Linked DNA regions of Homo sapiens. The protein of the gene in region 1 purifies or fractionates together with the protein of each later gene. This does not show direct contact. Each region holds a gene or a part of one and is shown on either strand. Other genes may lie near its edges.

Evidence for each region. Proteins that work in one complex are often made in the same cells at the same time.
Region 2: the proteins of ANTXR2 (region 1) and DPYSL5 purify together in Homo sapiens (affinity purification with mass spectrometry; one large-scale study listed by BioGRID and IntAct). This does not show direct contact.

Annotation. Positions count from the first base shown.
Region 1 is NC_000004.12:79,902,217-79,905,738, forward strand, and holds part of ANTXR2 (anthrax toxin receptor 2 isoform 1 precursor), read right to left. Parts: 3' UTR 1-3,522.
Region 2 is NC_000002.12:26,924,613-26,928,134, reverse strand, and holds part of DPYSL5 (dihydropyrimidinase-related protein 5), read right to left. Parts: intron 3,249-3,522; coding exon 3,090-3,248; intron 883-3,089; coding exon 703-882; intron 1-702. UniProt on the Homo sapiens protein: Involved in the negative regulation of dendrite outgrowth.

The DNA of each region.
Region 1 (3,522 bases):
TCCACTTTTTAAAATTGTGAATTCTTAGATCACAGTATCCTTCTACATTAAGACAATGCAAACTTTGTGAAAGGCTAGCAATTGTAACATACTATGGATTTTAAGCTGTGTTCAAATTACTTACTTAGTAAAGTATTTTCCACTGAATACTTGCTATGGGTAGCACAGGCATAGTAACTGTCAATTAAGACTTTTTTTCCAATTTTGACTAAAAAAAGAGGAGTTTAGTAATTTTTCTTTCTGTGGTATACAAAGTATCCCAATTATTAAAACTGGGAGCATAAATATCTCCTAACAATCTCTGTGCTTCTTTATATATGTTTTTAAGACACTTGCTAACCCTATGAAACCAGAGTGAAGTACATGCATACATTTCCCAATGTTTTACCCATCTTTTTAGAGATTTCATCAGATATAAACTGTAAGTTTCCTCTTTGACAAATTTAATTATAAGAAATTAACTAAGAAATTATTATGGCTAATTATCAACATATACTATAGTTCAAGGTATTTTTTTTTTTTGCAACTGACAGTTTACAGAACTAATATTACCACACACTACAGACAAAGAAGCCAGTCATATTGATACAAATATGAGATACAAAAATACTAAAACCTCCAACCTAACCATATTAATAGAAATGTAGTCAGAGGCCTGGTGCAGTAGCTTGTGCCTGTAATCACAGCATTTGGGAGACTGAGGCAGGAGGATCACTTGAGGCCAGGTGTTTGAGACCAGTCTGAGCAACATAGCGAAACCCCATTTCTACAAAAATACAAGAGTTAGCTGGGTGTGGTGTTATGTGCCTGTAATCCCAGCTACTCAGGAGGCTGAGGGATGAGAATCACTTGAACCCAGGAAGAGGAGGTTACAGTCAGCCCAGACCATGCCATTGAACTCCAGCCTGGGTGACAGAGTGAGACTCTGTTTCAAAAAAAAGAAAAAAAATCTAGTCAGTGCTAAAAGGAACTTTTGATATCTTCATTCCATCTTCAGTCTATGGTTGAGAGTTGATCTGTTCAACATCAGCAAGCTAGTTGATGGCTGGGTCTATGGTCTAGGACCTCTCTGTTACCTGATTCCTAAGCTAAGACTCTTCATAGAAAACACATTGAGTCAATTCTCCCTCTGTTTCTCTCTCTCTCTCTCTCTCTCACACACACACACACAATTTACCTTAATATAGTTATTGTAGAGCAATCTAAACAAGCATATTTTTATACAAATTTACATGTTGTACTGTGTACTTACTTATCAGCCTTTTCTTTTGGCAGGAGAGCACAAAAATAAAATACATTAAAAAACCAGCGCAGAACCTGCTACATTATGGATTTTCAAAAACAACAACAAAAAAGTCTTTCTTTTATCCGATCGACTGAATTAGATTCCAGTAGGTGTGGAAATATATTAAAGTGTTCTCAGAAATATGTCATAGAAATTCACTAAGCACAATATTAATCTAACTCTAAACTAGAATATGCGTCTGCACTGACTTTATTTCCTACAAATAGACAACATTCTCCAGCCTCACCTGCCTGTTTCTTTCCTTAACTATGTAACAGATGTACCAAGAGTTATTCTATGTTTCTAGATTATGTATTTCCTTTCATATTGAAATGATGCATATATTTCTTTCCTGTGTACATATACCCACCAAACTTTTCCAGTAGTAATGAAACTCTCAAAAACTTTCTAAAGTAATGTGATGCTAGAAAATGCTAGTAAAAGCTAACCAATATACAATATATGCATGGAGTAGGAAGTTATAATTCCTTCTACTTGTAAATGTGACCTAATTACATTCTGCCTTCTTAAATTTCAAAAATAACATATATAAGCTGGTCTATCAAAATGTTTTAAACACCTAATTATCCACAATATAGAATTTGTTTCAACTTTAAACTAAACAAATGTATCTGCCTCTGAGCAGTAAACAATGGTTAGTGATATTTAGATAATAAAGTTAACTTCACAGAAACACCCAAATCTTGTATCTAGTAAGGATTTATTATAACAAATATTGAATAATTTATTATTTAAATGGTTAGAATAAAGTTCAAGGGAAATATAAGCAAACTACTTCTTTCTCTAACAATCTGAAATACATGGGGGTTTAAACCTTCTATATTTTTGTCAAAATAGTAATTAACCATAGATGACAGATGCTGCTCCCTAGTCAATGGAGGGTCTCAAATTTTACTCTGCATCTCATTGGGAAGGAAATATAAATTTTTAAAATAGAATTAACTTAGGGAAAGGCATCAGTGCTGCAACTCTTAGCACCAAATGTTTTTTCTTGGAGCACCAAATGCTCTAAGGAAAACATTCCAAGTATCAAAGTTTTCAGATAGATAAATATTTATGGATCAAATCCATAAAGAACAGACATTGTTATGAAATATATATAGATGCCTTCAAAACTTTCTTTCTAGGCAGAGTAGACACATAAGTTAGGAGTCATTTCCCACTTAATTGTTTTTGCAACCTTATGCAACACGAATGGATTATGTGCAAGACTTATTCATTTTTACACAGAAAGTAGATCTTGACTGACATGGTGTCCAGAAAATCAAACAGAAGCTATTTCTCTATATAAAATATAAAGTGCCATTAAATTTATAGAAATGGCTTCATTTTAATCTTTTTTTGGTGGAAAAGTATAGGGATTTTTGATCTGGTCTTTTGGTAAGAAAATAACACTCTTCAAAACAAATTCTTTTCAACTGCTAGTTAGTATAATTGGAGAAAAGCATAAAACAGATCTGGTTCATATCTTTAAGGGCAATGAAATTCCATCAGTCTTTGAACTTTATTAATGATATTTTTTCAGTCTACATATAGACCACTGCCACTTCCTCTTCATTAAGAGCTCTTCATAGTAGCTGTATAACAATCTACAGAAAGTTATTTTTCCATTTAAAGGCAGAGGTTAATTTTCATTGTTCATGCAGCAAAATGTAAGTATGCTACATAATTCTAGAGAAATTTGAAGTAGTTACCAAAGAAACATAGCCTTAGCTTCTGTAGTATTCTCAATGATATTAAAATAGCAATAATTGGTGTGCACTCATCAGAAATGAAGTGCCCATTTAAGGAAGCCACATTAGGTCTTGTTCCAGATGCAAATGCAGAACAAAGGGATACAATAACTCATTGCAGAAAGGGTTGGGTATACTATATCAGGCTTCCAAGTTACACTTGCATATGCAGCTACTGCCAATAGTATCATCTGTGAACATGAGGGACATTTTGGAACTGAATAGAATTCCATCCCTGAAACTAAGCATAACAACTGCATATTCAACCCAAGAAGGCATTAGCTTTATGTGGGCTTAAAGAAATGGTAGCACAGGCATAGGTAAAATTTTTATTTATGAATGTGTGGACACATGACTTTGGATCCAGCCAGCCAGTGACATAAATAAACTTGAGCAAAAGTTTCAAGCTAGAGGATATATATGTATAGAAAATTATATATTTGTGTGTGTGTGTAAGGCCTCTTGGAACAGTGCCACAAACCT
Region 2 (3,522 bases), on another chromosome or scaffold:
TTCTCACTTCTGCAGTGTTCGTCTTCTAAAGAAGGCAGAGCATGCACAGGCCGCCCATGCAGTGGGGCTCTCCTGATTCTCACTTCATAATGACTGAACATATCTTGTTCTCTTAAAAATACAGTTAAGTATTATAACTAGCAACAGGCCTGGGACACCAAAGACAAGCACTCTTTACTGATTTCAAACTCAGAATTCCCTCTCTGGAAATCGAGACTAAGCTCTAGCTTCCAGCAACTGCTAGGCTAGCCCTTACCCCAAGACCTAGGAGAATGCACCAGAGGCTTATCCTTCCTGGTGCCATGAATAGATCTCTTTAATGTCTCAGATCCTCTGAAGAGGCCAAATGGGAAGCGGATTCTTATTTATTCTGTATATCAAATCTCATTAAAAATATGTCTGAGAGGTGCTCCAAATTCTCTGCTATAATGGAATTTAAATCTCATATCATTAGAATTAAGACATCATCACCTACGACTTAGAAGCCTTTTTGAACCATAAAAAGAGATTTGTTTTTTACAGACAGTAGTAAAGTTTGGATTTTCTGACCAAGATCTGACAGCTGGGGTGTCCACACCTCACACTTTAACAACTGATTTTGTCTGAATCCTGTGGGATCAGTGACGGGTGGTCAGGAATCCCCTGAGAACTAACTGTCTCCACTGGTGTCCCTCCATCCAATATTCTTGGCTGCAGACTTGCCTCGGCCACAAGCTCCCCATTTTCAGCATGGACGCGGGCGATTGCCCCAATGTCCTTGCAAGCGTGCAACACTTGGTACAGCTCACTGTCTCGAAGCATGTACAGGTCCTTGTAGGTCATGAACATCTGGAACGAGTTGACACCCTTCTCCCTCACCAGTGTCTCCATTTCTGCTTTCACCTGGAGAACAAGTAGAAGGGCAATGCTGCGTGAGGGCAGACACCCAAGAGGCCGACTGGCAGGCACCGGCCCAGCATGGGGGAGATGTGGGGCCTGCCCCAGCTCAGTCTGTCGGTTGACCCCCCACACCTCTCTATCTCACTTTCCTCCCACCCCACAGGCTGCTGTGAGGCCACCTGAGTAGATGGATGCGGAAGTACTGTGAAAATTGTCAACACGACACAGTTTAGGAGCCACATTGTTACCTTATAGGCACGTTTCTCCTATCACTTAGGCCTGTCCCCTATGTCTGTCTCCAAACCAGCCTTAATGGTAAACATAGGAATAATGATTTTAATTTCTGTGGGCTGTTGCCTGGCATTACAAAGAAGGCATACTAATGCTAAAAATCCAGAGGTCCTGGGAAAACCAAATTTAGGAACAAAGCTAAACATGAACAAAGTTATGAGAGTTAGGATATTCCTAACATTATTTGTACTAGGAAAAACATGGAAGCAACATTGGCCTGATAACAGGAAAATAAGTTCAGGTTCATCCACTTGGTAGAATATTAAGTGGCCATTATATTGCTGGTTCATGAACTTCATGGCAAAATAGAAAATGCTCACACCTATGCAAAATAGCTACTCTGTGAAAGCATGGATGAAAAAAGATGGGAAAGAAAGAAGTTTAACAGCAGGGATGGTGCTGGGGGTTACTGGATTATGTACTTCCTTTCTTTTCTATTTTTCACATCTATAATTAGAAACATTTATTTGATTATTATAAAACAGAATTTTAAATTCCTGATGCATGAAAGTCACCATAAGCTCCAGGAAATTAGGGAGGGTTGGCCTGGCTTCTGTGCTGCTGGGAACCTGAGAAGACCCTCTATTCTAGGCCAGCTCCAGGGGAAGTAGAGAGTGGCTCAGAGGTAGAGGCCTCTCACCCAGGAGAGTGTCCAAAAAGGAGACCCCCATTTGAGATAAGGAATGGCTGACATTCAGCGTGATCTGCACCTCTGGCCCAGAACCGGGAGGAGGTCTTCTATAAGTGCCAGGTCAGAAATAATGAAGAAACCGGGTGAGCCCCCAGCTCAAGGCTAAGACCCGAGGGCAGAAATATAGTGAGGCTTTAGGTTATCATCTGAGAAGGGTGTTAGGCCCTTTATACCAGGGCCTGCAACTGAAGAACTTCATAAAACTTCTTTTTTCTTTTTATGATTAAGAACAGAGTTTATTCGAGCTCAAAGCTTGAGGATGTCCACCTGGGAGCACAGATTCAAGCTGCCCTGAATATACACTCTGATTAGCAGCAGTTACAAGTGGGTTTTTGACGGAAAATGAAGAGGCAGTTCCTGAGTTGGTAAAACTAATAATGCTTATTATTTTTATGATTCTGGGGCACCCACCAAAGTACTGGTACATGGGGCTTAATAAATAATTGATGAAAGAATGAATATCCAGACTGCTACCCTGGGCAAAAAAGCAGAAAAACCCCAGAAACAAAGCCAAATCGAAATGCCTGTAGATTAGGAAGAGCAAGGAAGTGGGAATCCGGGGAGAGGAGTCTGGACTCTGACCCTGGGGCCTGGGCAGGGGGAGGACAGGAAAGCCAGAGGCCAGGGGCACAGACACAAAGGAGGCACAGAGGCTGAACTGAGAAAGGCTCAGGGGGTGCCAGCCTCAGTCACAGACCAGGACAGCCTCGATGCTTCTCAGAGCAGAAGCTGGGCCCCCAGTAGGAAAAAAGCATACCACATTCCTTTCATTCCAGACAGTACTGAGGCAGGATGGGAGCCTCAGTTCGGAGACCTCAGCGCAGTGTGGTGGACTCTCAGTACACATAGGATATGGGATATGACCCTCTGCACCTGAGCCCTGCTCAGGCCTCTTCTCAGCAGCACTGCCCATGACCTGTCAGTGGTGCCCTACATTCACACGAGACGGTAAGAGCCTCATGGTCAGAGCAATGAAACTGCATCCCCAAGGCCTGGGCTCTGGCCTTGGCCTCTCTGTGCCTGCCGGAAAATGGCTCATTAAGTTAAGCAGCACAAGCCCATCCGCTCCCCTTATGGAATCCCAAGTGTGTTTTCTTTTGGCATTGTGGGGAGCTAGGATGGTAGTGGGAGGGGTGCCCCACACAAGCAGGAGGCACTGCACCCCAACCAGCCCCTCTGCCTACAAGACCACTTGTGCCTTCTTCTGGGATCCCACCAGCACTGTTACCTTGGGTGCCCACCAGGTGATCCCCACGTGGAGGGCGTAATCACAGCAGACCTTGGGGTCGGCCAGACCTCGGCACTTCTCATAAGCGTCCACAAGGGAGGTCTCCTTGTCGGGCAGGACGTGGCCGATGATCATGGTGGTGCCTCCGACGAGTGCTGCCTGGGAAGACGGGAAAAGGCAGTCTCGTCACAGCCCTGCCTGCCCCCGAGTCAATGATGTGGTGAGACATGGTCCTCATGGTCCATTCAAAGACAGGCCCTGCCTCACAAGAGGCTGTGAGGACCAAGGGCAGCGAGGTTTGGGAAACTGTAAAGAGCCATGTGGAGGTGCGAGAGCCAGCGCGACCTTCATCATGACCACGGGTCCCCAAACCTGCTTCTTCCTCCGCCAGGGTTTCAGCTTGGCGCGCTGGAAAAACCACATCGTGGGTCAC